6 separate regions of the Homo sapiens genome follow, and all the other regions are linked to region 6. The links come from fine-mapping of genetic effects on gene expression. A gene starts in region 6. Each other region holds a variant in brackets. All regions are shown on one strand. Distances are between the middles of the regions.

Region 1 (5,076 bases), 60 kb after region 6:
TGCAACAAAAAAGAATACAAATAAAAATACAGTATAACAATTATATACATGACATTTATATTGTATTAGGTATATGTATTATAAGTAATCTATAGATGATTTTAAGTACCTGAGACCCTCTTCTTCAACTCCAGGCAGTGCAGCTTGGGGAAAAACTCCCTTCACTTGGGGAAAGGAGAAGAAAAAGTATAGAGGTCTTTGTCTTACTAGTTAGTTAGGTACCAGCTAAGCCACAATAAAATAAAGCACCAAGTAGTTTCCTGAAGCCCCTGATTCCAGGTCTTAGCTCCTGGATGGCATTTCTATACCCACCCTGGGGCAGAAGGGAATTTTCTGCCTTGAAGGCAATGACTGAGTCCTGGCAGGGTTCACCACCTGCTAACTAAAGAGCCCTTGGGCCTTGAATAAACATCAGTGGTAGCCAGGCAGTAGTCACCATGGGCATTAGGCAAGACACAGTACTGTGTTAGCTTCAGGTATGACCCAGCACAGTGCCAGCTGTGGTGGCCACAGGAGTGCTTGTGTCACTCCTCCCCCAACTCCAGGCAGCCTAGCATGGGGAGAAAAACTCCTTGTGGTTCAAGGAACAAAAGAGAAGAGACTGAGATACTTTGCCTAGTAACCCAAGGAATTCTCCCTTTAGGACAATGCTTCATTTAGAAGCACCATTGTGCCTCTAGGACTTGGCAAGAGTTGTAGCATTCCTGGGCTTAGGGCACCTCCTAGTACTGATACAGCTGCAGTGACCATAAACTTAGACCGCAACACTCATTCCCCTTGGAATACCTGGAAAGCTATTTCAAGAAGGACAGGTACAAACAAGCCAAGAATGTGAAGACAAAATAGACAAAATAGACACCTAATTCTTCAACACCCAGATATCAACAAACATCCACAAGCATCAAGAACACCCAAGGAACATGACCTTACCAAACGAACTAAATAAGGCACCAGTGACCAATCCTGGAGTGACAAAGATATATGACCTTTCAAATAGAGAATTCAAAATACTCGTCTTGCAGAAGTTCAACAAACATCAAGATAATACAGAGAAGGAATTCAGAATTGTATCAGATAAATTTAACAAAGAGATTGAAATAATTTTTAAAAATCAAGCAGACATTTTGGAGCTGAAAAATTCAATTGAAAAATGCATCAGAGTCTCTCAACAGCAGAATTGATCAAACAGAAGAAAAAATTAGTGAGCTGGAAGACAGGCTATATAAAAATACAGTCAGAGGGAAACAATAAGAATAAAAAAGAATTAAGCATACATATAAGATCCAGGAAATAGCCTGACAAGGGCAAATCTAATAGTTGTTGGCCTTAAAGAGAACATATATAGAGAGAGACATAAGGGTAGAAAGTTTATTCAAAGAAATAATAATGAAAACTTCCCAAACCTAGAGAAAGATATGAATATCCAGCTACAAGAAGATCATAAAACACTAAACAGATTCAAGCCAAATAAGGCTACATCAAAGCATATATTAATGGAACTCTCAAAGGTCAAGGATAAAGAAAGGATCCTGAAAGCAACAAGTAAAAATAAGCAAATAACATAAAAGGAGCTCCAATATGTCTGGCAGCAGACTTTGCAGCAGAAACCTTTAGGACAAAAGAGAATGGATTGGCATATTCAAAGTGCTAAAGGAATAAAAGCTTCCAATTTAGAATATTGTATGCAGCAAAATTATTCTACAAACATGAAGGAGAAATATGTTCACAGACAAACAAAACCTGAGAGATTTCATCAACACCAGATCCGTCTTACAAGAAATACTCAAGGGAGATCTTCAATATGAAAGAAAAGGATGTTAACAAATGAGAAAAAAAATCACCTGAAGGTATCTAATTCACTGGTAATAGTAAGTATACAGACAAATACAGTATACTATTAACACTGTAACTGCAGTATGTACATATCTTTAGTAGAAGGACCAAAAGACACATTTATCAAAAATAATAATTACAAGAACTTTTTAGAGACAGTATAAAAAGATATATATAGAGACAACAAAATGTCAAAATGCCAGGGGGATGGAGTTAAAGTGTAGAGTTGTTTAGTTTTCTCTTTGCTTGTTTGTCTTTTCTTTTCTTTTCTCTTTTTTTCTTCTTTCTTTCTTTTTCTTTGTAATCCGGGTTAAGTTGTCATCAGTTTAAAATACTTGGTTGTAAGATGTTATTTGCAAGCCTCATGGTAACCACAAAACAAAAACCTATGATAGGTACACAAAAAATAATAAGCAAAAACTTAAAACATACTACCAGAGAATATCACTTTTACACAAAGGAAAACAAGAAGGAAGAAAGAAGAAGAGGACCAACAAAACAACCAGAAAAGAAGTAACTGTATGGCAGCAGTAAGTCCATACCTATCATTAGTAATACTGAAACTAAATGGAATAAATTCCCTAATAAAAATACATAGAGCAGTTGGATGTATAAAAAGATAAGACTCAACTATATGCTGCCTACAAGAAATTCACATCACCTATAAAGACACACATCGACTGAAAATAAAAGGATGGAAAAAGATATTCCAAGCAAATGGAAATCATAAAAGAGCAGGAGTTGCTATACTTATATGAGACAAAATGGATTTCAAGACAAAAACTCTAAAGACAAACAAATGAGTTCATTATATAATGACAAAAAGGTCAATT[T/C]GGTAAGAGAATATAATAGTAAATATCTATGCATCCAACACAGGAGCACCCAGATATAGAAAGCAAATATTATTAGAACTAAAGACAGTGATAGACCCCAATACAATAATAGCTGGGTACTTAACACCCCAGTTTCACCTTTGGACAGATCATCAAGACATAAAATAAAGAAAAAGTATGTAAGAAATGGACCTAATATGTATTTACAGAACATATTATCCAAAAAAGGCAGAATACATGTTCTTTTCCTTAGCACATGAAACATCCTCAAAGATAGGTTGTATGTTAGGTCACAAAAAAAATCTCAAAAAATTTTTAAAAATTGAAATCACATCAAGTATCTTTTCTGACCACAGTGAGATGAAACTAGAAATAAATAACAAGAGAAACTTTGTAAATTATACAAACACATGGAAATTAAACAATATGCTCCTGAATGACCACTGGGTCAATGAAGAAATTGACCAATAAGGGAATTTAAAGATTTCTTGAAACAAATGAAAATGGAAACAGAACATACCAAAACCTGTGGGACACAGCCAAAGCAGTACTAAAGTTGAAGTGTATAGCAATAAATACCTACATCAAAAAAGTAGAAAAACTTCAAATAAACAACCTAACAATTGTATCCTAAAGAGCTATAAAAGCAAGAGCAAACTGAATCCAAAATTAGTTGAAGAAAGAAAAAATCTTTCCCCCTAAGACAGTGAATTGGAGGCAATGTTAGCATGCCTCTCCCACTTGGGAAGATAAAATGTGGTGTAGAGATATGTAGAGATATATGTAGAGACTATGTAGAGATACACACTGTGAACTTTTTTCCAGGAGGCAACACAGGAACTTAACAGGAAAACGGAAGGAAACCATAAGACCCTTTAAAAGAAGAGATAGGCTGCTGCAACCTATACTATAAGCCATGTGAAAAATTGTTAAGTCCTCAAAGTGTGAGAGGGTGAGAGCCTGCCTCCAGGATATAAATCCCCACTGGGGAACCTGGCAATCCAGTCCATGGGGGAAGGCGTTAACCCTACCAAGCACTGGAACTGATTTAGTGAGCAGTGGGAAATATAAAAGCAGGAGCAGCAGCTGGAAGAGACTTTTGGACATTCCCGGTCTCCAGTACAAACCAAGGGAGGTTATTCCTGATTCTACATTACTGGGAACCTCATGGAAGTCTGCAAGCTAACTCAGGCAGCAGTCACAGGTTGAGAGAAGCTCCCAACTAAAATCTGTGATATAATCTCGAGCAGGGTTGAACTCTCTTGGCCAGAACTGGGAGGTGAATGGGAAGTGTGCTACAGCCACGAGTGCAGAAGCTGGGTGCCCTGGATTTGTGGGTGGACTGGGAGGGGAGTGGCCTGAAAGTCACCAGTTGCTGTCTCTGAGGAGAAGGCTTATGGCCTAGGACAGTTTTGAGTGTAGACTTCCTGGAGCTTAGCTAGCTGTTGCTAGCAGAACACTGTGGGTGTAAGACCTGCCTTGCCAAGTGCATGGAAGCTGGGTGGAGCTTACTGCCGCCTGCTACTCCCTAATTGCTGGGCAAACTCTTCAGTGAAGCAGAGGCAGTTGTCCTCATCCCTGAAGCGTTACCTTAGTGGCCAGAAAACTGTCTCCTGGCCCCCACAGGGAATGCTGCTTGCATGGACCTGCCCAGCACAACTCTGACCTGGCTTCACCCCTCCACCTACCCTGGTAGCTTAACACAAAAGACAGAAACTTTTGGGAGCTTTATAACCCTGCCCATCACGTAAGAAACCAGAGTACCTCCCCTAGGTAACATAAGGCAAGCAGAAATCCCACTGCTACCACCAAACCTGGTGCTCTTTTGCAAGTACAACCACCTGGCAGAAGCCAACTGACACAGTCCATTACAGACAGCATCTGCAGGTAGAATAACCTGCACTCAGGAAGGAGAAAATTTGTGTATGACCTCAGCTATCACTGTGATATGGTTTGGCTGTGTCCCCACCCAAATCTCATCTTGAATTGTATCTCCCATAATTCCCATGTGTTGTGGGAGGGACCTGGTGGGACATAATTGAATCATGGGGGCAATTTCCCTCATACAATTCTCGTGGTAGTGAATAAGTCTCATGAGATCTGATGGTTTTATAAGGGAAAACCCTTTCACTTGGCTCTCACTCTTCTCTTGTCTGCTACCATGTGAGAAGGGCCTTTCACCTTCCACCATAATTGTGAGGCCTCCCTAGCCACATGAAACTGTGCATCCATCAAACCTCTCTTTCTTTATAAATTACCCAATCTTGGGTATGTCTTTATCAGCAGCATGAAAACAGATTAATACACACCATTACCTACACCACCCTGGCTAACCAGGAAGTTCTAAGTCTGTCCACATAACCAGTTAATTACTCCTACAACCAGCATTTGAAATAGCCAACACACTAAG
Region 2 (5,076 bases), 550 kb after region 6:
CGCTCCACTTTGTCTTAGAGTTATTTTGCACATGTCCCTAGCTAAACCTTAAGCTCCATTTGGTCAAGGATTCAGAGTTAACTCCACATCTAAACACGCATATAAAAATGTTACTCATATATATATTGATGAGCTAATGAAAGGGGTGAACTTATCTCCTTTAGAATTCAGGCAGATAAATGCACTACGTTGCCATCCTGCACTGGGAACTGGTCAGTTCCACTGTGTATGGCCTGCTTAGAGGCATTCTAATTCAGGAATTATGAAAATACATAGGCTAAACAAAAAACTTTGCTCATCTGATTAAGTTTGGCTGCAATTTTGTGATACCCACTCTAGTGGAGTCTAAAATTTTTGATTGAGTTCTTCAGATAGCAAATATCTCAACAGCAAGCTGTTGGAAGAATTCTTGGTTGACAACATTAAGATTTTAATTGAAAAATAAGATTGGACATATAGATTGAGAATTAACCTGGGAATCTCTAATAATTGTTTTAATGTTCACTGCTGTAAAATAACAGTGGTAGCTATTCAATAAAGAGAATATCAATGACATTTTTCACGTTAATGTAATTAGGTCCAAGTAATCATTTTATATTCCCTGGAAACTTTGCAGGCGTGCTCTGCCTCGTAGGTTCAATTAGATGCTTTGTCGTGGATTTAGTTGGTATATCTAGTATTATGTCTAGCACTTATCAGCTTCTTTATATTAATATTCCCAAATTATAATGTTCTCAAGCTCCATTCACTTTACTAGAAGTTTTCAGTCTTTTCTAGTTAGTATCCCTCCCCAGATTTTTCTTATAATCTGTGGGGATTGTTAATTCCTCTATTCTTTTGTGGCCCAACTCGCAACGGACTGCTGGCTTTCCCAGCTCTTTCAGCTTCCCCCTTCTCTCCCTGAGCATGTTTCATGGTCTACTGCAGAGCTTCTAATGAAACAAGGAATCCGCTGACTTTATTGCCCTTAGTAGAACCAGAAACCATTGTGATGAAGTCCTGCCATATGTGAAAGGAGGGTAGTGCAGTTGTTGCAGACTGGAGTCAATCTTTGCTATGGACTGTTCCACACGGAAGGAAGGATCGCAAATGTTGTAAATCTAACTTTCTCAAGTTACCAATTTGTGCTCCTTAAAGCCTCATTACTTCCATGGACCATTAGTATCAGAATCACTTGGAAACTTACAGGGAGAGATGTGTTAAAGAATGCGAAATTACAGCCACATAGTTCCAGTGTTCTATGCCACCGTAGAATGACTATAGTTAACAATAATATGTTGTGTAGCTTCAAATAGCTAGGAGGACATTGAGCCGTCCTGACAGAAAGAAATGATAAATATTTAAGATAATGGATATGTTAATTACTCAAAAAGGATAAATGTTTATCATTTCTCACTTTTCATTATTTATCACCATACATTATTTGTTTCTTGTTTTGTTTTGTTTTTTGATACAGTCTTGCTCTGTCACCCAGGCTGGAGTGCAGTGGTGCAAACATGGCAGCCTCACCCTCCTGAGCTCAAGCAATCCTCCTGCCTCAGCATCCCAAGTAGCTGGGACCACAGGCACCTGCCACCATGCCTGGTTGATTTTTAATTTTTTGTTTGTTTGTTTTGGTAGAGACAAGATCTCACCATGTTGCCTAGGCTAGTCTCAAATTCCTGGGCTCCAGTGATCTTCCTGCCTTGGCCTCCCAAAGTGCTGGGATTATAGGAATGAGCCCAGCCATCATATATTATTTGTATCAAAACATCACTATGTATCCCATGAATATGTACAATTATTATTTGTTAATTTTAAAAGAAAATATAGTATCTGGACCCACCCCCAGATGTACTAAATTAGAACCTCAATTTGTGCACTAAAGTTTAAGACATATTGCCTTAAAATGCACCCAGAGAAGCTGGGCAGCTCCGGGGAGCATGCTTGTTTTATTGAGAGCTCTGGGATCAGTGGCCACCTTGCTTGTGCCAATCTTTTTCTTTGAAGGGCTCTAATCATCTCTGCAGTCTGGCCTCAATCAAGGCCACCCCAGCCTATCTAATGACTTTTTAAAAAAAATTTTACTTGGGGAAGGAAAAAGCAGTTAGGAAGAATAATCTAGTTCTTTCTCCTTCCTTTACTCCCAAGCTGAGAGTCTCTGTTGCCCCTAAGATTGATAGCTGTCAACAGCTTTGTGGGAGAATGAACACTACCCAACTCCACCAGACAACTCCCATGCTTCAAAGGAAAACATAGGTCATGGTGGCCAAGTAATGCCCATATCCACCTCAAGTGAAAACAGCTGTGTTGAGAAAGTGATGCTATAATCCAATTCCCCCTGCAACATCTGCAATCCAGACCCAGATCATGTCAAAGAATGCAATGACAAATATAATCTACCTAATAATAGGGTTTGTGTTTTGTTTTTGTTTTTCCTGCTAAATGCATTTTGTCCAGTGAAACATCTAAGACTTTTCTTTGTTTTTGTTTTTGTTTTTGTTTTGGTTTTAGAGTTGTTGATTTCAACCTCCTGGTTTCCATAGTCCCAAGACCATAGGACAGTATCTTTGGATAATTCCTCTATGCCATTTCCTTGAACTCTGAGATGAGAAATGTCCTTGAGTGCATCCAGTCACAGCATTACCTTCTTCTCCAGAAGTGCCTTCTCAGCTGCAGAGATAGCTCAGGCAGCTGCACAGGTTGTATGTGACCTGGTGTCTCAGGGCCAGGGAATGAGATCAGTGGTGTATGTACATTATAGAATTTGACTAACAGCTCTCTCCCCTGGGCTTCTGTTGAGATTCCCAGAACTTTGGTGAAGTGTGTGTGTGACTCTGTGTGTGTGTGTGTGTGTGTGTGTGTGTGTGTGTGTGT[T/GTT]TATGTATGTCTGGCACTGAGGCAATGTAACCTAGGGGCTGGGTAATGCCCCTGTGCAGAGAGCAGCAAAGGAAGCCTGTCTGCAGTTGAGAACAGTGAAGCATGTAAGGAAGGAGAAGCAGAGAAGATAAGGCAGAGAGTACTGGGTTACTGGTAGCTTTGCAGCTCTTGCCCCAGTCCTCAGGCACAGTCCAGCAGTCTGCACAAACTTCCTTCTGGTTTCTTCATCTCCTTCAATCCTCCACAGTAAAACATCTACCTTTTGTTTCACTATGTTTTCGACTTCGACTTCCCTTTTCTAGCTTAAACTTTTCCCATCTCAATATTTCTTCTAATTATACCTAGGAGTCATCCCCCATAGCACATGTATTGGACACAAAGTATTTATGGTTGCAAAAAAAAAAGGAGTGTACATGAAAAATGTTATAAAAGGAGAATATTTGGGATTGATGAAATGCCACTCTGGAGTATGGCTGCAATAAATTCTCTGGAGAAGGTCTTAGGAATGCAGATTTCAAATGCAAACCACAGATATTCTAATTCATTAGTGCTGAGATGGAACCAGGGAATCTATAATTTTTGTTTTTATTTTACTTTATTTTATTTATTTTTTCCCCTAGATTAAATATTAAGCTCAGGTTATAGAAATATGTATTTTTAAGCTGATTTTAAAAATATGGGATTGGTGTCTGCTGGTCTTAGATGCATGCTAACTACGTTTTTCTTTATATTTTTAATTCAATGCAATGAACATTGATCAAATACTCACTATGTTCCAGTAACTATACTGGGTTTTGTGGGCTAGTATTTTACCGTTGCTGGGGAAATAGATTACATATACATTAGCAATAAACGTGTAACTAACTTGTACGAGGAACCAAGGTAAGTTCCTTTAGCAGAGGTTTAAAAAGTCAGGTGTAGGAACAGAACTGTTTAAAGGCTATAACTTTGTAATCTCATCTTCAACAAAGAACTTGAATTGTCTGTCCTTAACTACAAAAAAAAACCTTTAAGAAGTTTGAGTATAATAGTATCAAAGCCTTTAGAGCAGGCAGATAGATGATTATTTGTATCTTATTTTGTGATTTCTGCGAAATTGTACTAAAAGACATTTCCTTCATGTTCTCTAAGTTTCTAATGAAAAAAACAATAAAATAAATGTATTTTATAATAAACTACTAAAAAATTGTGTCTTTGAAGATAAACTTTACTTTTTCCTTTTTAAAAACAATAATGTATAATTTGTATTTTCCTTTTCCTTTTTTCTGTAGTTGCCAAGAAGTTCACTGCTAAATTTAATGTTCCATTCTTTCTTTTTCTCATGTGATTCATCCCTGACATATCTGCCTTTCTTTGTCTTCTAATTGTTTTTTTTTTCTATCTTTTATTGTTGTTCTTTTAAGTTTGTTGGGGGCTATATTGTAAATTGCTTCAAATCATATTTTGAAGGCAGGTAAGGAATAAATCCTGAAGAGGCATCTGAGAAGTGTCTGCTTTGTGGTAAGGAGTGGTTTTGCCCGGAATCTGCCCCATACAAGTGGGGATATACATCTTGGCTTTGAACAAGTGCTCTACCACAATAGAAAAAGATGAAGTTCAAATATTATTCCATGAGAGTTTCATAAAAGTGCTCAGTCACTGTTAACACCATTATGTCTTCAAATTGAAAAAATAACTATATAGCTAAAAATATATTTGTAGATTTTGCTGAAGATTTTCTGTAAATGAAATCCATAAGTCTTATTCTTGCATGATAGCTCTTTCCCTGGAATTCATATCCTGTAACTTACAATGTTTATTCATTCTCTCATCTGAAAATCTTTGGTAAAGCAAACTATAACACTCATACCAGCTAAAAAATCCTTTGTACTTAAAACTCTAAATTTTAGAAGAATAGAGATCCAAATCCAGATGAAGCATAAAAGTTTATGAATAAAAGAGGAAATGATTAATTTTAAATTTGTAAGATAGTTGCTTCATTTGTGGTACTATTTTAAACTATACCATTTACCTTGGCTACAGGCATATTTGAGTGAATTAAAACTGACAACATAGGTTTTCACTTGCTTAACAAGATATTGAAATAGCACGTGGTTTCTTGTGTGCTGTATTCTAGAAAATACATTACAGTATAATAATATCAAATACTATTTGGATATAGATGTTTTGATTCATAATCATGGGTGCTTTATAAATTTTAGGTGCATTATATAATAAATA
Region 3 (5,076 bases), 42 kb after region 6:
TTTTAAAATTTTTGCTTTCCTCTATTCCATTCTTTACACACTGCCATCAGAGTAGTTGTTCTCAAGTATTACCTTCAGAAGTTCCACTGTCTTTGTGACTCAAAATAAAGCCCCTGGGTGTGGCCGGCAGGTCCTGTATGGCATCTCCTGTCTACCTGTCCAGCCTCATTTCTTGACACTCCTGTCTTCTTGCCACCTCATGATGCGGCCAATGGTAATATTTCTTGTTTTCAGAAACTGACTTTTTATTTTGCCTCTTGTCTTAGCACACTTTCTTTCTCTGGAACATTCTGTCTCTCCTCCTTACTTGACTAATTCCTCCTTCCCTCACAAGGCTAACAGCACGATTTTCTTGCTCTAACCCACCCTCAGAACCAGTTTCCCATCCTGTGTACTACCATATCCTCCCTGTTTACCTCCCTCATGGCTTCTACCCGCTCAGTGTGCATCATCCTCACCAAATAGTGAATTCCTCAAGAGCAGAGACTGGGTCTTATGTATTTTCTCACCTGTGACTGGAACAGTGTCTGCATGTAGTAGGTAATCAGTGACTATTTTTGGAATGAGTTACAAGCAGAGGGCATAGAAAGGGGAAGACAGGAGAAGGGGTGAAAGTGTGAAGAGATTTGACTTTAGCTGCTATCTAAACAGAGAGCTCACTGCAAGTAATTTGCCTCCGTTTCCTTATTCAGAGAGAGGTGACTCATAACAACGATGGAGACATAGCTACACACTTGAGAATGAAGATTCACAGTGAAATTCTTTGAAAATCTACAGATGTCTTGGATTAAGGAGCACTAGGCACCAGCCATTTATACAGCCAGAGAACAATCTGATAGAGAATTCTGAAGAATTTGTCTTAGCTGGTTCATTCTTTAGGACAAATTTGTGCCTGTGCCAATCATTTCAAAATTGCTTCATCCATAGCAATTTTGAAAACTATCCTCAAATGATTGAATAAAGAGGGTAAGACATGAAATCGAGTTTTTTATTTGGAAAATATTTAATGAGCAGAATGAAGGAATAGAAAGTAATGAAAGAAAGAGGCCTGAAAAAGATAAATAAAAAATAATCATGAAAACTTCACATATATAAACCCAAATAATCTAAAACATTAGTCAATATCTTCTCCTTATCCCAAAGAGGAACTGGGGATGTATAGACAAACATTTATTTAAATTAATTTCCCCAGCATGCATGTAATTCCAAGATGGATAAATGAGTGTTCTCCTTTGATAAATGGCGAGAGGGGATAAAGACTGACCTGCCCAGAAAATGGTACAGATAAAACGATTGGACCTAAATACTGGAGGTTTGGGAGGCAGATAACTGAGATGTGGTTATGTTGCTTGTTAATTGAAACTCTGAAGAGTCAATAATGATTCCAGATATCCTATAGTATCATAAATGTACATATACATACAAGTGTGTTAGTCTCATATCTAGTTCAAATATAAATAAGTATTTAACCTCAAAAACAACCCCACAAAGTCATACGTGTGGAAATGGAACTCAAGTTCTGTTAATTCTCATAGGTTTTTTTGCTTTACCTCCTTTCTTGTTTACTCTTAGAGGAGGTTGTTGACTTGCTCAATATCACACTGCGAGCAAAAGTGGTTAATCTGGGATATAAACTTAGATCTTCTAATTCCAAATCTAGACCTTTTATCAAAACCCCACAGCCTTCCTATAAACTAGGGAAGCTCCCCCAAAATGATGTTTTGAAAATAGAAAAATATTCTATCCCATTAAATAAAACAGTTTCTTTTAAAATAGAATTGCACACACAGAATAGTAGTATTCGGTTGGTGCAAAAGTAATTGCGGTTTTTGCCGTTAAAGGTAAACCTTTAAAGGTAACCTTTTTTAAAGGTAAATTATTTACCTTTCTGCACACCAAAAATATGTTCCTAAATAAAAATAGTTATCTCTGAACATTGTAATAAGTTATATGAATTTTACTACAAAAATACAAATACTTTATATATTGATTTTTTAAAGTAATTGGCATAGTGGTAAAGGAATATTATTTACCTTTAAATAAGGTGACCTTCAAAGGTTTACCTTTAATGGCAAAAACCACAATTACTTTTGCACCAAACTAATACCAGAAATTTAATACCCACTTTTCCCTGCACATAGTCTCTCTACCCTAAAAAAATCAATGATTTAAATTTTTCCTATTTCTCTCTATTCTTTGCTAATCTGAATACATGATTTTGATAAGAATATAATTTCTTAAATATAATTTTGGATATCAGTAATTTGAGAATTTTAATTAAAATATATTTCTAAATAATCTAAGCACATGTTCTAAATGATTTCTTTGGAAATTCTTTCTCTTAATTTTTATGATAATGCTAGAACCAAAAGGTACACTTAGAGTTCATTGAAATGCAGTAAATTTCCAGGCATAAAGTAATCAATACTAAGTATTAACTATATGCTAACTACTTAAAAAATCAATATATAGAGTATTTGTATTTTTGTAGTATAATTCATATAACTTATTACAATGTTTAGAGAGAACTATTTTGATTTAGGAACACATTTTTGGTGTGCAGAAATATTCTTTGCCTGTGTATTATTATGACACATATATAATAATAGGAGAAACAGCAAAAAGAAACATATTCAAGAAACTCAAAGAACTTTCAGGCTGTACATCATTACTCCTCCATCCCTTTAATGGGAACAGACTGCGAGTAGACAGGCTGGTTTTAGAGGAAGGAGTTGTTTTACCAAGTGCTGTTCTCTGCAAGTGATCCCCTAATGAAGCCAATCACAAACAAATTTCTCCTGAAATTCTACTTTACAGTCATTAGCAGTGAATTGAAAAGCTGGTTTTCAGTAAGAATTCACTTGGGAATTAAGTGCTCATCAAGGCCAGCTGCAGGCTTAATCATGCAGAACACCTGACATGACATGGGTGTGCAGTCTGATTTGAGAACTGGAGGACTAACACTCTATAGAGTTTCCAGGATCAC[A/G]GGGAAATTCTTTGCATTTTATCGTGACTCTCTCAGGCTGTCTTTTAGAGACTTGAAGATCTAGGCAAAATAATGTTATTCTTATTAAGTAAATAAGAGAACGTCAAAAAAAACACTGAAGGATGTAGGAGGCTCTGTAGCTCAACCACCCTATGTTGTAAGTGGGGAGACTGAGGCCCGGCAAGGTTAAAGCTGGACTCAGCTATGAGTCTTGGATCAGAAGTCAGCCTGCCAAGGTGCCATTCAGTTCTCTTTCCATTTAGGTGGGGCCAAGAATGGTGTCTGAATATCTGTTATAAAAACAACAAAAGAAACCCTTCTTTTGTTTTTTAAGCCCTTTCCTTTCTTTCTCCTTTCTGCAGCTTCGTTGTGTGGAAGATCTTCAGACAATTCAAGTGATCAAGATTTTAAAATATGAAAAGAAACTGGCCAAAATGTGCTTTTTAATGATATTCACCTTCCTGGTCTGTTGGATGCCTTATATCGTGATCTGCTTCTTGGTGGTTAATGGTCATGGTCACCTGGTCACTCCAACAATATCTATTGTTTCGTACCTCTTTGCTAAATCGAACACTGTATACAATCCAGTGATTTATGTCTTCATGATCAGAAAGGTAAGCTTTGCAATTAACTGATTGTTTTCACCCTGGGCATAGAGTTGGAAATGACAGTGTAATACTTTTACAGAGGTGATTCAGAGTCGCTTCAATTAAAAAAAAAACAAGAATTTTTTAGGAATTAAAGGGATCTGGAAGAAATGTAGAATATTTCCAAAGAAAATCATAACAATTCTAAGAACTACCCATAGGGATTCACACTTGTTAGGTAGAATTCTAGTAAAACTAATATTTAATTCATCAGAAAATAGTTTATGCCTAGTAATAACAGCTACAATGTTAATAATACATTTAAAATTCCTACTGTACCAAGCAAGTTACAAGCAAGTCACAAACAAGTTACAAGCCAGTTTACAAAACTCCACAAAATAGGCACTAATATTATTCCTTGTTTTATTTATGGGTTATGAATAAGTTCAGAGAAGTTAAATAACTTGCCCAATCCAGGAAGTATTGGTGCCAGGATTTGAACCTAGTTTGCTCAAATCCCCAAATCCAGTGCTTATAACTCCTCACTTGGGGTTATAGATACTTGTAGCAATTGGCCTGGGTTGTTATTCACATGCCACAGCAAATGTCTAGCCTAAATTAATTTGGTTCAAGAAACTTCCTGGGCCTGGTGTGGTGGCTCAAGCCAGTAAACCCAGCACTTGGGCATGCTGAGGCAGAAGGATTGCTTGAGCTAAGAGTTCAAGACCAACCTGGGCAACATAATGAGATGCCCCGCTCTCTCAAAAAAAAAAAAGAAAAAATTAGCTGGGCATGGTGGCATGTGCCTTAGTCGCAGCTACTCAGGGGCCTGAGATGAAAGGATCTCTTGAGCCCAGGAGGTCAAGGCTGCAGTGACCCACTATCGCACCAGTGCATTCCAGCCTGGGCGACAGAGCGAGACCCTGTCTCAAAAAGAAGAGGAACTTCCTTATCATCTGTTTCTGTAGTTGAAAGGTTTTGACTTGATGGCTATGAGTCATGGCTAGGAGAGCCCACAAAATGATTATTATAAAGCTGAGCCTCTACGTTTCAGAGAATTTAAAAGTTAAAGATAATGCTTAATTACTCCATTGGAATTTTAAAGATAACAGGTCATAATAATAACAGGCAATAATAATCACTGTGACTTCTAATGCTCAAGAATGTGGAAGAAGAGGGCACTTTTGTAATAACCTTATTATGTTCAGTGCTAAATCTCTCTGCCTCTTATTTTGCCTTTCCTTCTCTTTGAGTATTATTGGCTTACACTCTCCATAAACTCACTTTCACCTGCCTTAATCTCCTCTCACTGACAGTGTTTCTTTCCCTGTTTTGTTGCCTTCAATTGGTCTATTTCCTTTAACCCAGAGATTTTAAACTTGGAGTCCATAGGACCTAAACATTCCTTGAGTTGGCCTCAGAAGAGCCACTGAAACCCTGGAAATTGTTTATAACAATTTTTTAGTATGCACACATATGAATTTTTCTAGTGAGATGGTTTAT
Region 4 (5,076 bases), 28 kb after region 6:
TCTCAGTTCCTGTTAAGTGCTTTCATCCAACTGTTTTTTTTTTTTTTTTTTTAGACTTTGGCCCCACTGTGCTTATGTTTGTTATTCTTCTGAACCTTAATTAATTCCACAGAGAAGTTACTTTATATTCAAACTTTTTTCCCACTCAGCCCATAGACTCTGGTCATACTGGATATTTCTTGGGTCTCTTAGTGTAATAATGATCCTTTTTTGCATTGTTAACCATCTTGTTCAATATCCTTTCCTGACGAGCAGAGGCATAAGTGTGGAAAAAGTTCTAATGAGGTCCTATTCCAAGATAGGGCTCTCCTTTTCCTTGGTTATGGTTTGTGGAGTTTAAGCAATTACTGGGGGGAAACAAACGCCTAAAGCTTTGTCAAATCAGAGGCAAGTCAAAAAGTCTAAGGCTAGGATATCTGTCCAAACGGGACTATAGGCAGAAAAGCCTAAGGCTAGGATATCTGTCCAAATGGGACTATGGGCAGAAAAGCCTAAGGCTAGGATATCTGTCCGAATGGGACTGTAGGCAGAAAAGCCTAAGGCTAGGATATCTGTCCAAATGGGACTATAGGCAGAAAAGAAGCCAAGTTTGAAGCCAGAATGGTCAGAGAACAAGGGGAGCTGATATTAAAAGAACCAAAGATAACAGAGGGGAGGTAAGCCTGGCACGATTTCCAAGCTACTGCACAGGTGCCCAGCGTAGCCTAGGAGGAGATGCTTATGGTGAAAAATGTCCGTATGTTTTAACAACTATGGCAACTATTTGCCCCGTGTACCCTATTTTTTAAAAAGTCACTAAATTTAATAGAAAAAAAATGCAATGCATGTGAAATACCAGTGAAGGATAGCATGAGTGAGCACAATGGAAACAACAGTGCAGCATTTTAAACTGTGAGCAGCTAGCCACAGACCACAGCATGTGGCCTGCCTCATTCAATCGTTCTCTTCTGGTAGTTCACTGGCCCTCTCTTAAGGGGCCTCTCAGTTTTAAATGCACTGCAAGCATTTGGGTAGCTATGACACACAATGGTCAGAAATACATTTCTATATAAGTTGATTACCTGAAATCATAATTTTTTTTTTTAATTTTGAGACGGAGTCTCACTCTGTTGCCCAGGCTGGAGTGCATTGGCATGATCTCGGCTGACTGCAACCTCCACCTCATGGATTCCAGCGATTCTCCTGCTTCAGCCTCCCAAGTAGCTGGGACTACAGGTGCGCACCACCAAGCCTGGCTAATTTTTGTATTTTTAGTAGAAACAGGGTTTCACCATGTTGGCCAGGCTGGTCTCAAACTCCTGACCTCAGGTGATCTGCCTGCCTTGGCCTCCCAAAGTGCTGGGATTACAGGCATGAGCCACCACACCGGACCTGAAATCTTAATTTTTTAACCCACAGAAAGGGTTTTAATTTTGATGTTGTGCTGGGTTTCCTTTGAAACTGAGTCATTGTGCACGAAATATGAAGACTACTGAACATGAAAATTTAATAGAATGCAGTTTCCACATCCTGATGTGGAAAACATGTATAATAAAAACCAACTACCACTTTGGTTGTTCTAGCAAACTGCTTTTATTGGTCAAATGGAAATCACTCATTCTAACAGCTGAGAGATATTATTCAAATGAAGGTAGTCTTTCATTTTCTCTAAAATTCTTCAATTTAAGAATATTGAGTTTAAAAAAATGACTTCTTCTGATATCAAAGTTAGACATGGTTACAGAACATACGTAGCAGACAATGGATTAAATATGCTTTCTATAGAGACTCTACATCACTAATATAAAATTTTTGATAATTCTCAAAGAAGAATTAGAAAACAAGTATAGCACAGCATGGACTTTGGAAGCAGACTGTGTGATTCGAGTCTTGGCTCTTTTATTTTTTAGCTTGTGACCTTGGCAAATGACTAAACCATTATTGCCTCAGTTTCTTCATCTGTAAAATGGGAATCGTAATTATAATTCCTACATGTCTCACAGAGTTGTTATGAAGATTAAGTGAGATAACACAGGCAAACTGCTTAGAACAGTCCCTGACTCATAGTAAGTACTCTCTATAAGTGTTAGTGGGCTGAAATTACTATTGTTAATTAAATAAAAAGGAGGAAGGAAACTTTCTCAACAAATAAGCAATATAAACAAGATTTCAAAGAAGAATTGGTTACTTGCTTAAAAGAACAAACTTTTTCAAGCATATTAAATGTACTGGTTTTCTTTAATATTGTTTCATATGACTAGATATTATAGGAGCAACAGGATGGTATGCCCGCTGCACGGTAACAGCCATGATTGAGTGGGTGCTGAGCGATGAGATGGAGGAGACCCTAAAATTCATCTCCCTGAGG[A/G]GATCTGGGTTGGGATTTTTAAGGGGACCATGAGGAGAAAGAGGATGGGAATTGGGGTCATTGATTGGTTGGGTTACGGAGGATGAAATCATCAGGATGTGGAAACTGCATTCTTTGGTGAGTCAGCTTCTCGTGGGATCCTTCAGGCAAGCTGATGTCAGTAGTTTCACTGGTACGTAGGACCTGAAAGAATATCTCAAATGGAAAACTTAACATTATATAATGTTCAAGCTGTTATCCATAGAGCAGTTAAGGGGAACTATAATTTTGTCACAGGGTCTACGTGATTCTGGGACAAGAGGCAAACAGCTATGAGGAAGCAGGTCAGAGAGCAAGCTGACCTCATAATCCATGCTGAATGTACCACAGGCTTGGTTTATTTTACATTCCCCTTGTCCTTTTTTCCTTGATTAATTTTATAAAGCTTCTAGGGATGGTCTCATAAAGACCACTACTTAGTAAAGTAGTATCTTTATTAAGCAATCTTCGTAGAGTTTTGTTTCCATTACTATCTGTGAACAAAAATAGTTAAACTGCATCTTTTTAAATTTCTACAAATTGATATATTTTTGAGTGAGCAAAATTTTCATTAATTTGAGAAAAATGCATCCACTTAGTTTGGAAGATTTTACTGTGTGCTCATTCACCCAGCCAACTCTGAAGACCACAAGACAGGTATTTACAGTTGCCCCATTTTATAGGTAGAGAATTTGAAACACAGTCCATCCAGATATTGTTCAAAATGATCCAGAGAATCTATGATGACATAAGTTATCCCCTAATCATCTTCACTTCCAAATTTACTTCTCTCCCATTTCTTTTCTAAGTCAATGCAACATCAGCTATTAATTATAACAAACCAGTAACCCAAGACTTGCTTTGATTCTTCTTCATTCATTCCCACAGCCAACAAAGATTAACTTCCTTAAATATGGTGGACCTTCCTCGTCTCTCCTTCCCTAGTGCCACTGCATCAGTTTCATTCCTTATCACAGTAACCATATTTCTCCACTAGGTTTCCCTAGAACCAGGCTTGGCTCACAATCCATTTTCCTCATTGCAGCCCAAGGGAACTTCCCATAAGGAAAACCTCCAAAAGCAAAATCAAAAGAAAATAAAATTCTCTAGAATTGTATTGTAATGGAAGTGAACAAAAACAGCTTAATGGCTCCTCAGAGCCCTCGGGACACATTCCAAGCTCCACGCATGGCATTTAAGGGTTTTCTAGGAGAGTCCTTAGTCTTTTCATTCTCTGTTTAGAACTCCGTCCTACCATTTTGAATTATTTGCAGGCACCTAAATGGTGCAAGCTCTGTCAGATCTCCATGTATTTACATAAGCTGTTTTCTCTTCCTGGAATAGGATAAGAGGATTGGCTGTCACTTCACTTCCCCATCATTTTTTTTTTTTTTTTTTTGGCCTTGTTAAAGTGTGCTTAATCTTTAAGACTCACTCAGGTGGTACCTGCTTCCCACAGAAAATACCCTGAGTTGGGTGTTCCTCCTCCCACTATAGGCAGAGTTTCTCCTTCTACCTCCTTCTCTGGATTATGTGCTCCTTGAAGGCATGGGTTTCGTCATAGTAACCTTTTCATACAACAGATAAGGATTGACAGGTCTCGGTCATGGCCTTTTTTGAAGCACGCTCTTCTGTTTAGTGTGAACTTGCTTACCCCAGTCTAGATACTTGAACTATAAATAAGCTATTCAATGTGGCCATCTAGTGGCCAAAGTGAGAAAATAACTGTATTATTGGGTAGTTGTATATTGATAAACACACCTTGTATTAATATTTAAGCTCCAGAGTTGTATTGATATTTAACCTCCAGAGCCCTGTCCACTCCCATGCCTTCCACCCACTTTCTACTACTTAAAGCAATTTAGCTCCAAGATATTCAACTATTCAGTAATAATAATAATACCTTACGCATTACCACTTTACTAAACATGTATATTCTCATTTAATACAGCCACACACCCACACGATGAGACAGCATTTTGGTACTATTATCTCAGTTTTACTGGTGAGCAAATTGAGATTCTGGGATGTTAATTAATTTTCCCATGGTCACAGAGTAATTATGTGAAAAAAAATGAAATTGATCTGAAGTCAGACGACATTCATTAGGTAATATGGAGAAAACTGGAATTGAATACAGGACTTTTGGCCTCAAACATATGTCTCTATTACTGAATTTATCACATTGTTTTATAGTAGTTTACTTCTCTGTTTATAATTCATCTTTTTTTCTTATTGTCTAGCACAGTGCCTGACACACAGTATGTGTATGACATGTGTTTGTTGATAAATATTGCAAATGAGTGTATAATCATTAAGTTATACCGGAAAGAACTATTTGACTCAAACTGATGCACAGAGTAGACATTTAAATATATATTTTCACTTCTGTGCTTTTATACATACTGTATCCTTGGCCTTGAAATATCCTCACTCTTGTCAACTTGATAAAATTCTCCTGTTCATCAATTCAAATGTTGCTTTCCCTTAAAACCTTCCCCAGTGTTTCCCCAGGCAGAGATAAGTACTTCCTCCATTGCATTCTCCAGCTCCCCGACACAGCTTTGTTTAACTCTTATCACATTCCTGTAATTGTTTGTTTACACATCTGTCTTCTCCAGACTGTGAGATCTTTGGCAGCAATTCAGGCAGAAGGAACAGCAGTATCAAAGCTGCCAGCTCTGAGTGAACATGCCGGGCAGTTTGCAGCC
Region 5 (5,076 bases), 64 kb before region 6:
TTCTGGATTCTTTGAAGGTTGCTGGCTATAAAATTTTGTATTGGAAAGGCTTAGGCTTGTAATATGTTTGAAAAGTTCTGCTGTGTCTAAGATTGCTAAAAAAATTAGTTTTTCATATCAAAGAATGTCTAGGGCTCATAAGGGAGTTAAGGAGAGAGGACAGTTGACTCTAAGTGTACTCCAAAAGGGAAATACTCAAGGTAGGAAAGTTGCCAGGGGCAGCAAAGCCTATGAAGGAAGTAGAGTTTTTAGGGCTTACTCAGTGGGTCCTCAGTCAGTGAGTCAACAACATTTATGAGTGCCAGCTGTACGCCCAACACTGCCCTAGGGGATAGATACATCAGTGAACTACAAGAACAGAGGTGAGAGTGTCCATCAGTTGAGGGTCACAAACTCAAAGTCTGCAGCAGCCAGGCAGGTAAACTAGCTGGGAGAAGGGGTTGGGTATGACACCACAGGGAGAAGGGGGGCTGTGGTGAACTGAGAGTGCATGCCTGTGAAAAGGGGGAGCCCGGGCCCAGAGCCAGCCAACATGCACAACAGGAAAGGCAGGTTCACCACAACAAGCAAAGATCAAAAAAATAAGTGATCCCCCAAACACATTTTGTAGCTGCATTTGGCTAACAGGCTACCAGTTTGCAGGAATAGCTCTCATATTTTTTGAAATAGACACTACAATTAAAAATCAATTATTTAAATAAAATTTGTTAAAATACCTTGATGAGTGAGAACAATCACCTGAAAAAATTTGATTTTTAAAAATTTAATAAAAAATAATGCAAAATAACCAAATTCACTGCTAGATAGAAAGCTTTACTAAATGGAAGAGCAGGTAGTATTATCTCTATGTGAAAGAATACTTCTAAAATATTTAAAACAGTTTTTTGAACTAATTTAAATCTACTTTGTAAGTAGTTATCCTTCTATCAAATGCAAAGTTCATAAAAGGAGTCTCAATTTAGTAACATAAATCAAAAGTCAGTATTTAGGCTTTTGAAAATGCTTAAATGTCCCAGATGAGAAGTAGTTAAGTTCTAACTGATGACTCATTTACAGGTTTGCCAGTGACATACTTTGTCACCATAGCTGCTTGGCTGAATGAACTGAACTGGATGTAGTACAAACCAGGAAGGGCATTATTTTCTTTTACCCTGTCTTATCTTGTCACCTCGCCCCAACAGCAAATCTTCTTGGGCCAATTCCCATTAGGATGGCTCCAGCGAAGCTACCTTCTGTGGCCCAAAGGGAATTCACAGGATGCTGGACAGTATCAGTGTGAATGCAGCCTTGCCACTCTGTGGCGGGTTCCTCCAGCCAGGGTCGACCTGATCCTTAGGCACAGCTGGCACAAGGCCTGGAGCCCAAAGTACTTTTAGGGGCCCGTGGAAATATTCTAGTTGCACTTAAAATCAGAAGGCAAAAATAAAAGCTTAGGGTCATAGGACATTAGAATTTTTAGGGCCCATGAAAACATACTAAATTTTTCCTAAGACAGAAGAAAAATGTTGAAGACATAAAAGTATATGAAAAATAATGTGTAAGATTGATAGTATTATGGTGGGAGGGACCTATAAAGGCAAAAATGCCCAGGGCCGGGAAAGTCAGACTGTGGCCCAGCCTGCAGCCTTCAGAATTCTCCATGAGGGCCAGGCATGGTGGCTCGCACCTGTAATCTCAGCACTTTGGGAGGCCAAGGTGGGAGGATCATTTGAAGCCAAGAGTCTGAGACCAGTCTGGGCAACATAACAAGACCCCATCTCTACCAAAATTAAGAAAAATTAGCCGGGCGTGTTGGCACACATCTGTATCTGCAGCCACTCAGGAGGCTGAGGCAGGAGGATTGCTTGATCCCAGGAACTCGAAGGTGCAATGAGCTATAATCATGCCCCTGCCCTCCAGTCCAGGTGACGGGGTAACATTAAGACCTTGTATCTTTTATTATTATTATTATTATTATTATTATTATTATTATTTATTTATTTATTTTTTTAGAGACAGAGTCTTGCTCTATCGCCCAGGCTGGAGTGCAGTGGCGCGATCTCGGCTCACTGCAAGCTCCGCCTCCCGGGTTCACGCCATTCTCCTGCCTCAGCCTCCCGAGTAGCTGGGACTACAGGCGCCCGCCACCATGCCCTGCTATTTTTTTTGTATTTTCAGTAGAGACGGGGTTTCACCGTGTTAGCCGGGATGGTCTCGATCTCCTGACCTCATGATCCGCCCTCCTTGGCCTCCCAAAGTGCTGGGATTACAGGCGTGAGCCACCCCGCCCGGCCAAGACCTTGTCTCTAAAAAGAAAAAAAATAAATTCTCCATGAGGAAGCGAGTAGTGGTCATCGCGTACATGTGTCACATGTCAAGCTTGCCCAAGGTGAGCCTGTGAGTTCTGAGCCTCAGCAACTAGCTACTGGGGAGCTAGATGCGTTTCCCCACTTTAGGCTCTTCTGGAGTAGATCTTCCTGGACCT[G/A]TCAGCACTTGCTTTGTAGCACCAGAAGCTCTCGCCCCAACCGCCACTCCCATTTTGGGGAAGGCAGACAAAATAACCCTGCATTCCCCCATTGGCCCACAACCAGGTACCTTAATCCCTCTTTTCAATTATTTTTGAATTGCTGGTTGTATCATATTCACATTTGCTGGCAAGGGATGATGGTGTAAAGGTCATGGGTCTAGAGCAATCCTCTCCAGTAATTCTTGAGGATGGTCTACTATACCTCTCTTTAGAATGGCATTAGCTGAAATTCTAAGACAGCAGGAAAAGAGCCATTTAATACCCTATTAACTGATTATGAGCAAATCTAACAACCTTTTTACTTAAATTTCTCAGCATGTGGAATTGTGTTCATACTTCCCATTTTAAAAATTTCAGTTTCTTAAGGATATTTGCCCTTTAGATGTAATTACTCTATTTTCCTATAAAAAATAATGATAGGAGCCCACATAATTAAATGAATTACAAATGAGTGAACTGTGCCTTTAAATAAAACTTCTTTCAAGTAGAAAGGCTCATATAATTGATGTCAATTTGGAAAATGAAAGATGGCCTGCTTTCCAGTATTTCATGTTCATATTCAGCTGCATATCCTTTGAAAAATTGCTTTTTCATTCTGTTATTAGAAGTATCTTACTCTAACCAGCATGCATAAAAAATCAAACATTTTGTGAGAAATCTATCATGATAATATTAACCAGCATTTCGATAGCACTTTAAGAGTGAAGAGCGTTTTTTCATATACTTTCCAGTGCATTGAGATATCAGTTTGGTGTTTGGACTTGAGCCCAGGTCCACCACACTATGCTCCCTTCTCAGGATGGCAGGGGTGAGGTTGGGAAGGAAGGAGACTGTCCTCTTGGCCAGGACACCTTAGTGAGCCCCACCTGTAAACACCACCCATAGCAGAGTGGCACCAGACTCACAGTTTCGTGTACAATGTGGGCCCATGATGTTCATTAATAACAAGATAAAATGTAGATACCATGTGATATGGTTAGGCTTTGTGTCCCCACCCAAATCTCATCTTGAATTGTAATCCCCAAGTATTGAGGAAGGAACCTAGTGGGAGGTGATTGGTTCATGGGGGCGGCTTCTCCCGTGTTGTTCTTGTGTTAGTGAGTGAGTTCTCATGAGATCTGATGATTTTATAAGTGTTTGGCAAGTTCCTCTTTTGCTCACTTTTCTCTCTCCTGCCATCATGTGAAGAAGGTCCTTGCTTCCCTTTCACCTTCCGCCATGATTGTAAGTTTCCTGAAGCCTCCCCAGCCATGTGGAACTGTGAGTCAATTAACCTCTTTCCTTTACAAATTATTGAGTCTCAGATAGTATCTTTATAGCAGTGTGAAAATGGATTAATACACAACGGTTCTTTGAATATAGAAGGCTCCCAATAAATAATTGTTTGAATATCCTTAAGGGACAAATACCTGATTAACAATAACCACTTCCCGGAGTCACACAGAATAGAAATGTATTGATTCTGGGAAGTTCATTCTGACTTTTTCCCTGATCCCCCTGAAATGATAGCAATTTTAAAGAGAAACATTTTCTGACAGTTTCTTCAAAACAGAAAAAAAAAAAAAACTTTTTGATAGAGTCCCCTATCAAAAGTCCCTGGCTGAATTACCACATGCTTCATCTCAGACTTTTCTCCTGTTGTTCCATGAATTAATGAGCGTGATGCAGGGAGAGAAGCAGAGTCATCAGGTAGAAGGTAAAGGGGTGACTTTTTTCAGGGGGCATGTGTTACACGATAGGGGTTGTTCACTGAATGGAAGGCAATGCTGCAGACGGGAAGCATCCCAGGGGAACTGTGTGATTGCTAAAGAAGCAGGGCTACTGAGTCAGCAGAGTCCCTCGATATTTTCTCCCGGTGACGGTGAGGTAGTTGGTGGGGAATGAGGGCAGGAAACAAGGAATAAGGCATTTCTCTTTTCTCCTTTATGATATAAGAGGAAAGAAATTTCAGAATGCCTCAGGTAAGGCATTTTTAAAAAGTGGCCCTAACTCTGTATTACTGCCTCTTATTGATCCATATTGTGCCCATTCCCAAGGGGCAAGGGAGGGTGCAATAGAAAATTCTACATCAGACATTGGCAAAATTTTTCCATAAAGAATAAGATAACAAATATTGTAGATTTTGCCATAAAGTCTCTGTTGTCAGAACTACTCAACTCTGCCACTGTAGCATGAAAACAATCATAGATAACACAAATAAGTATGGCTGTGATTCCCTTACAGCTCTATTCATGACCAGTGAAATTTAAATTTCATATCAATTTTATGGGTCATAAGATATTATTCTTTTTTAAAACTTTTGTTTCAGTCATTGAACAATGTAAAAACCATTCTTAGTTTGCAGATGTTATAAAAACAGGTGACTCATTGGATCTGGCCTTGGGCTACAGTTTGCTAATCCCTGCTCTAGATGCAGGAACAGGAAGCTTAAACCAGTGCACAAACTAATCTATGATAGTTTCATCTCTTCTCCTTTGTATTCAAGTTCTTTCTTTTTTTTTTTTTCCTTTAAATTTTTTCAGTATCTTTCTTAGGGGAACAAGAAAAGGAGCCAACATTTATTGAGTACT
Region 6 (5,076 bases):
GAGAGCAGGCATCTCACATGGCGACAACCAGATAGGGAGAGAGAGAGAGAGAGAGTGGGATGGCGGAGTTGCCACACACTTTTAGATGACCAGAGCTCACTTATCACAAAGGGGATGGCCCAGGCCATTCATGAGGGATCCGCCCCCTATGACCAAAACACCTACCACTAGGACCCACCTCTAATATTGGGGATTATATTTCAACATGAGATTTGGGTGGGGACAAACATCCAAACTATATCATGCTGGTGTTTTTCATTTGTTTGTTTTTTGTTTTTTTTTTTAATAAAAGATTGTAGTGTTCTGCCATTATCCTGTCATTACATAATTCTAAAATTAAAAAAGAAACATATATCCTTATCATTGCCTGTTTCTGTCAAGCTCAATAAATGTCCTTAATGGTTCATAGTATTGTAAAATTACTGTGTCAAAAATGCTTAAGCATTTGTCAAAGGCCTCTTACTCCTCCTTTGCATTCACTGCTAGTAGGCATTGCCCTGGACTTTACTCTGATTGAGTAAAAGCCAAAGTCCTTTTATTGAAATGGCCAAGGTCCTGCATATTCTGGCCATTCACTGCACACCCACCTGACTGGCTGCATTTCCCGATTCTCATTCTTGCTTCCTTATTGTTCCTCCAACATACCAATACAGTACTCCTGCCCATAACCACCTTGTCTAAATAACAACCTTGACAGAGCAGGTGCATCACCATCATGGACAAGCACTGCCATTTTAAAGTTCCCCTTGATCAAAAACCACCTAAATCCAAACAGCATCAGCCTAATGGCTAAGGTCAGCATGACCATACACCACAAATGACATCTCCGACCAGAAACATTCCAACCCTAAGATAAACCCCTCCCTGACCAGAGACATGCGAGCCCCGAGATAACCTCCCCTCCGACAGAGACATTCCAACTTGGCAATAAACTTCTTCTCCAAACAGAAACATTCCACGCCTGTGATAAGCTCTCTCACTCTAAAATCCTTAAATACTCTTAGTCTGTAAGAGAGTGCTCCTGACCGAAATCGGCCAGAAGCCCCTCTTAGGTTTATTCTTCCAAATAACACTGTCTGACTGTTGAGCTGCTATTAGTGTTTCTTTCCTCTTTCTTTAACTCTTACAAACTCCTTGCCCCATCTCCCATAGCTCCTGGCTCAACCTCCTGAGTAGCTGGGACCACAGACATGTACCATCTTGCCTGGCTAATTTTCTATTTTTTGAAGAGTTAGGGGGCAGTTCTCACTTTGTTGCCCAGGCTGGTCTTGAACTCCTGGGCTTAAGAAATCCTACTGCCTCGGCCTCCCAAAGTGCTGGGGTTACAGGAATGAGCCACCACGCCTGACCCCTATTTCTTCATGGCATTTGTCAGTGGCTGACACCCTACGTATTTATCTAATTTTTGTTTGTTCTCCCAACACGACTGGAATGTGAGCTTTATAAGGGCAATGACTCAGCAATGAAGAATGAATAGGAAAAAATATAGCGAGTTCTTTATTCATTCATTCAAATTACTATTTATTGAGAACTTACTGTAGACTAGACACAGAAAACACTTTCGACATTAAACATATAGAACTTGTTAAATAGTTATGTTTTGTTCAGTGGTTGTACAAATCTAAAATTAACAATTAAAAGTGTGTGTGTGTTTTTTAAGGGGTGGGTGGGTAGGAAGTCTCACAGATGGCGAGTCCAGAGCAGAAGCCTTGAAGGAAAATCAAGGTGTCAAAGGCAGAGCACACTGCCCCTTAGCTATTGCTCAGTGCACCAGGGTGGAGAGCTGCTGCCAGCCTATTAGATCCTCTCTCCAGGGAATTCAGAATGTGGATTGATCCAAGCTAGTCATTCCCTACTGATCTTTCAAACAGAGGTGAGGCACGCCCGTATGGAGAGCAGTTTCTTTAGCTTGCACAAACCCTGTGTTCGTCACCAGTGTCCAGGACAGGCTGCAGGTGTGGCTGGGGACTGTGATCTTCTTGTAGGGCCTCCTTAGGGATTGTGCAACCACAAAGGCAGAAGCAGCTCTTGCAGAGTGTGATGACGTTCACAACCTATATTTGACTTGTACTATATTCTCATCACTACAGGAGAAGAGGCCCAATGGGAAATGTGTGCTGTTCTAAATATAGCACCTGCCTCCTATACCTGCTAGATTTAGGTTGAATCTTTCACTGCCTGTGAAGGACTTTAGCAGGCCTCAGTGACCGGAAAGATCTACCCACGCTTTCAAGCACAGGAAGGACGGTATTGGAAGGCCTTGGGGTCCAGCCCAGGGCTTAAAGTCAGTTCCATTGGAATGCCATTTTCAGAGAGTTTTCATCCCAGACTCTCCAAGGGTGGCAGGCTCTTGTATCAGCCCTGGGACATGTGTCCTCTAGCAGTCAGGTAGTTAGGCAGGCACCTGTCTATCAATTTGTTGTTTTTCTTCTCAGTTTTCCGGTAAGACTACCCCGAGCTCTTCAATGTTTTCTTTGCTTTTGTTTACATTGAGTGTATGACGCGGGATGGGCTTCGTAGGCTGGTTGTGGGTTATTACAGCTTCCCAGGAAGGGGAGAAACCCAATTCTTGCCAGCACGTGGTGGGCGCAGGCGCTCATAAATACTTAGGAATAAATGAATGTATAAGTGAGTGCATGAATGGGTGAGTGGACACGAAGCTTTCAAGGTGGGTGCAGGGAGGTGGGGGTGTGAAGAGCCATCGAGGCTACCCTGCGGCCCTGGCCCCCAGGCTATCCCGCGACGCGCGTCCACGCCGACCAGCGGAAGGTGCCCAGCCAGTGGGGGCGGGGCGAGCTAGCCGCGAGGACGCGCCCGCGGGGGGGCGGGGCTAAGAGGACGCGCCGGGAGCAGCGGAGCGACGAGGACAGGCCGCGGGGAGGGGCGGGGCCACGGGGGGTGCGCCGGGCGGAAGGGGCGGGAAGAGGGCGGGCCCGGCGCGCGGTAGCGCGGGCCCCTCAGTGCACAATGGCTAGAGCAGGCGGCGGAGCCCCAACCCCACCCAGTGCGGAGCGCGCCGCGAGCCCCGCCGCAAGCTGAGCGCCTCCGCCCGCCAGGCGCGCCGGCGCCGGGCCATGTACTCGGGGAACCGCAGCGGCGGCCACGGCTACTGGGACGGCGGCGGGGCCGCGGGCGCTGAGGGGCCGGCGCCGGCGGGGACACTGAGCCCCGCGCCCCTCTTCAGCCCCGGCACCTACGAGCGCCTGGCGCTGCTGCTGGGCTCCATTGGGCTGCTGGGCGTCGGCAACAACCTGCTGGTGCTCGTCCTCTACTACAAGTTCCAGCGGCTCCGCACTCCCACTCACCTCCTCCTGGTCAACATCAGCCTCAGCGACCTGCTGGTGTCCCTCTTCGGGGTCACCTTTACCTTCGTGTCCTGCCTGAGGAACGGCTGGGTGTGGGACACCGTGGGCTGCGTGTGGGACGGGTTTAGCGGCAGCCTCTTCGGTGAGTTGGACTGGGAGAAGGCAGCCTCCCCTCTGCAAACTTCCACTCCCCACCCCGCTGCCCGCTCCGTGCGTCCGCCCCCCAGCCCGCCCCGCACCGCTTCCCGCTCGGCCCCGCGCCCCCCGCCCTACACCGCCCCGCTCCCCGCTCGCCTCCTCAACGCTGCCCGACCCCAGCCGCATGGCGGGTGCCTTCCTCTTCCTCCGTCCCCTCCCGCCCCACGCTGTCCAGGACTCCATTCCTGTGGTCTCTCATCTGCCCCCCACGTTGACCCCAAACCCCGGCCCGCCTCCTTTCTTATTTGTTTTTACCTCCTAAGATCACTCAACAAGGCACGAAACCACGGCTTTTTACACTTTGAGGAAAGAGACGAGGGCCTGTAGAGTCAAGAGATTCAAGAAAAAAAGTGATTAACTCGTGAAAGTTGGAGGGAGTGATGAGATTAGATTCATGTACTACTATTTGTTTCCTAAAATGAGAGTAGAAAACCAAAATAACAATGTGTAAAAAAAAATTCTCATTAGTACTTGTAAACCTTTGAATGCTTTCTAGGGAATGAGACAGTTTCATTCAGGTCCTCAGAATGCAAATTGGCATGTGCCCTGTAAGCTGTTTTTACTATTTTCCGTCTTATAGATGGGTTCCAGCACACCAGAATCTTGGGTGAGATTACAAATGGCTCAGCCAATACCATCTCAGGTGAACAAATACTGTAATTAGCTCTGCAATCGGTAGATTTCATTAAAGTAGAACTTCATTGTTGAAGATGTATTTCGACAGTACTCTTATTATGGAAGATTTAAGTTTCACTGAGACATGATGTTTTGAAGGATGATCAACAACTCAGCAAATCATTGAAGGAAGCGTAGAAAGGAAATTATTTTTTTGTGTGCCTCAGGAATTTCATTTGTAGGGAGATTTGAAATAGAAATGTGTATTTCTCAAGGCTTAAAGTTCCTTTTTTAAATCCTGAAATCCATTGATACTTTATTGCTTTAATCTTGGTAGGTTTGGGAGAACAAAAATCTTTGTAGAATTATCAAAAATATTTTCTTATTCAGTAACCTCTATGCTATGACAAACCCAAATATTATATTTGTAATGATTCATTTTTTGGCGTTTTGAAGGAAATAAGAAAATAGATTTTATTTGATTGCTTCAGAGGTTATAATATTTTCCTCCCCGCCCCTCATAAGCTTTAATCTGATAATTTCATTTGAACAAACATTTGAAATTTAGGGAGGGGACTGCAAGTGTATGTAGGCTGTGGTATGGACGACTATGGGATTACACTCCTTATATTAATTGTAAAATACCTATCAGGCAGTTTCTTCGGCAATGCTAAGAAGGTTATTCAAGCCCAAGCCTAAAGTATCATCAGTAGTGTTCTCCAGGGTAGTCAACAGGTGTTTGTTCACAGACATCAAAGTTCTTTTTTCCTTGAAGTGCCTTTTCTGTGCTGGAAAATTCTGTTTTCGTGCCCGGGAGTTTGAACACAAGGGTGTACTGAGTTCTTTATAAGTGCTAGCTGTCATCCACCCTCTTCCTCACCTCTTTCCTCTGCTGATCCCACCCTCCTGTGTCTCCTGGTCACTTCTCCCTTCCTGTTTTTCTTCTTCACCATCCCTC

Alleles and levels. Positions count from the first base shown, and alleles are read on the strand shown. Sizes are in standard deviations (SD) of each study's normalised expression. Not every link is listed here.
For the expression in esophagus mucosa of the gene that starts at base 2,960 in region 6, G is the high allele of the variant in region 5 and A is the other (small effect, 0.25 SD a copy in GTEx).

Evidence for each region. PIP is the estimated chance that this variant, and not a neighbour inherited with it, causes the effect.
Region 1: its variant is fine-mapped to the expression of OPN3 in whole blood (TOPMed, PIP above 0.99).
Region 2: its variant is fine-mapped to the expression of OPN3 in monocytes after muramyl dipeptide (Kim-Hellmuth 2017, PIP 0.95).
Region 3: its variant is fine-mapped to the expression of OPN3 in whole blood (TOPMed, PIP 0.99).
Region 4: its variant is fine-mapped to the expression of OPN3 in whole blood (INTERVAL, PIP 0.93).
Region 5: its variant is fine-mapped to the expression of OPN3 in esophagus mucosa (GTEx, PIP above 0.99).

What each region holds. Positions count from the first base shown.
Region 1 is chr1:241,578,642-241,583,717 of GRCh38, reverse strand. All of the region lies in intron 10 of KMO (kynurenine 3-monooxygenase), which reads right to left. Among named protein-coding and RNA genes, the nearest start is that of KMO, 49 kb to the right of the region's middle. The variant T/C (reference allele first, on the strand shown) is at 2,667.
Region 2 is chr1:241,092,019-241,097,094 of GRCh38, reverse strand. All of the region lies in intron 3 of RGS7 (regulator of G protein signaling 7), which reads left to right. Among named protein-coding and RNA genes, the nearest start is that of MIR3123, 38 kb to the left of the region's middle. The variant T/GTT (reference allele first, on the strand shown) is at 2,857.
Region 3 is chr1:241,596,270-241,601,345 of GRCh38, reverse strand. It overlaps OPN3 (opsin 3), which reads left to right. Exons shown (of 4, transcript NM_014322.3): 3 at 3,349-3,600. Among named protein-coding and RNA genes, the nearest start is that of CHML, 42 kb to the left of the region's middle. The variant A/G (reference allele first, on the strand shown) is at 2,987.
Region 4 is chr1:241,610,182-241,615,257 of GRCh38, reverse strand. All of the region lies in intron 1 of OPN3 (opsin 3), which reads left to right. Among named protein-coding and RNA genes, the nearest start is that of CHML, 28 kb to the left of the region's middle. The variant A/G (reference allele first, on the strand shown) is at 2,348.
Region 5 is chr1:241,702,457-241,707,532 of GRCh38, reverse strand. The region is part of intron 8 of WDR64 (WD repeat domain 64); the gene reads right to left. The region is part of intron 1 of LOC124904603 (a long non-coding RNA gene); the gene reads left to right. Among named protein-coding and RNA genes, the nearest start is that of WDR64, 53 kb to the right of the region's middle. The variant G/A (reference allele first, on the strand shown) is at 2,465.
Region 6 is chr1:241,638,253-241,643,328 of GRCh38, reverse strand. It overlaps OPN3 (opsin 3), which reads left to right and starts at 2,960. Exons shown (of 4, transcript NM_014322.3): 1 at 2,960-3,447. The coding sequence starts at 3,075. It overlaps CHML (CHM like Rab escort protein), which reads left to right and starts at 2,960. Exons shown (of 2, transcript NM_001381853.1): 1 at 2,960-3,447. RefSeq lists silencers at 2,631-3,210, 3,541-3,590 and enhancers at 2,693-3,262, 3,263-3,833.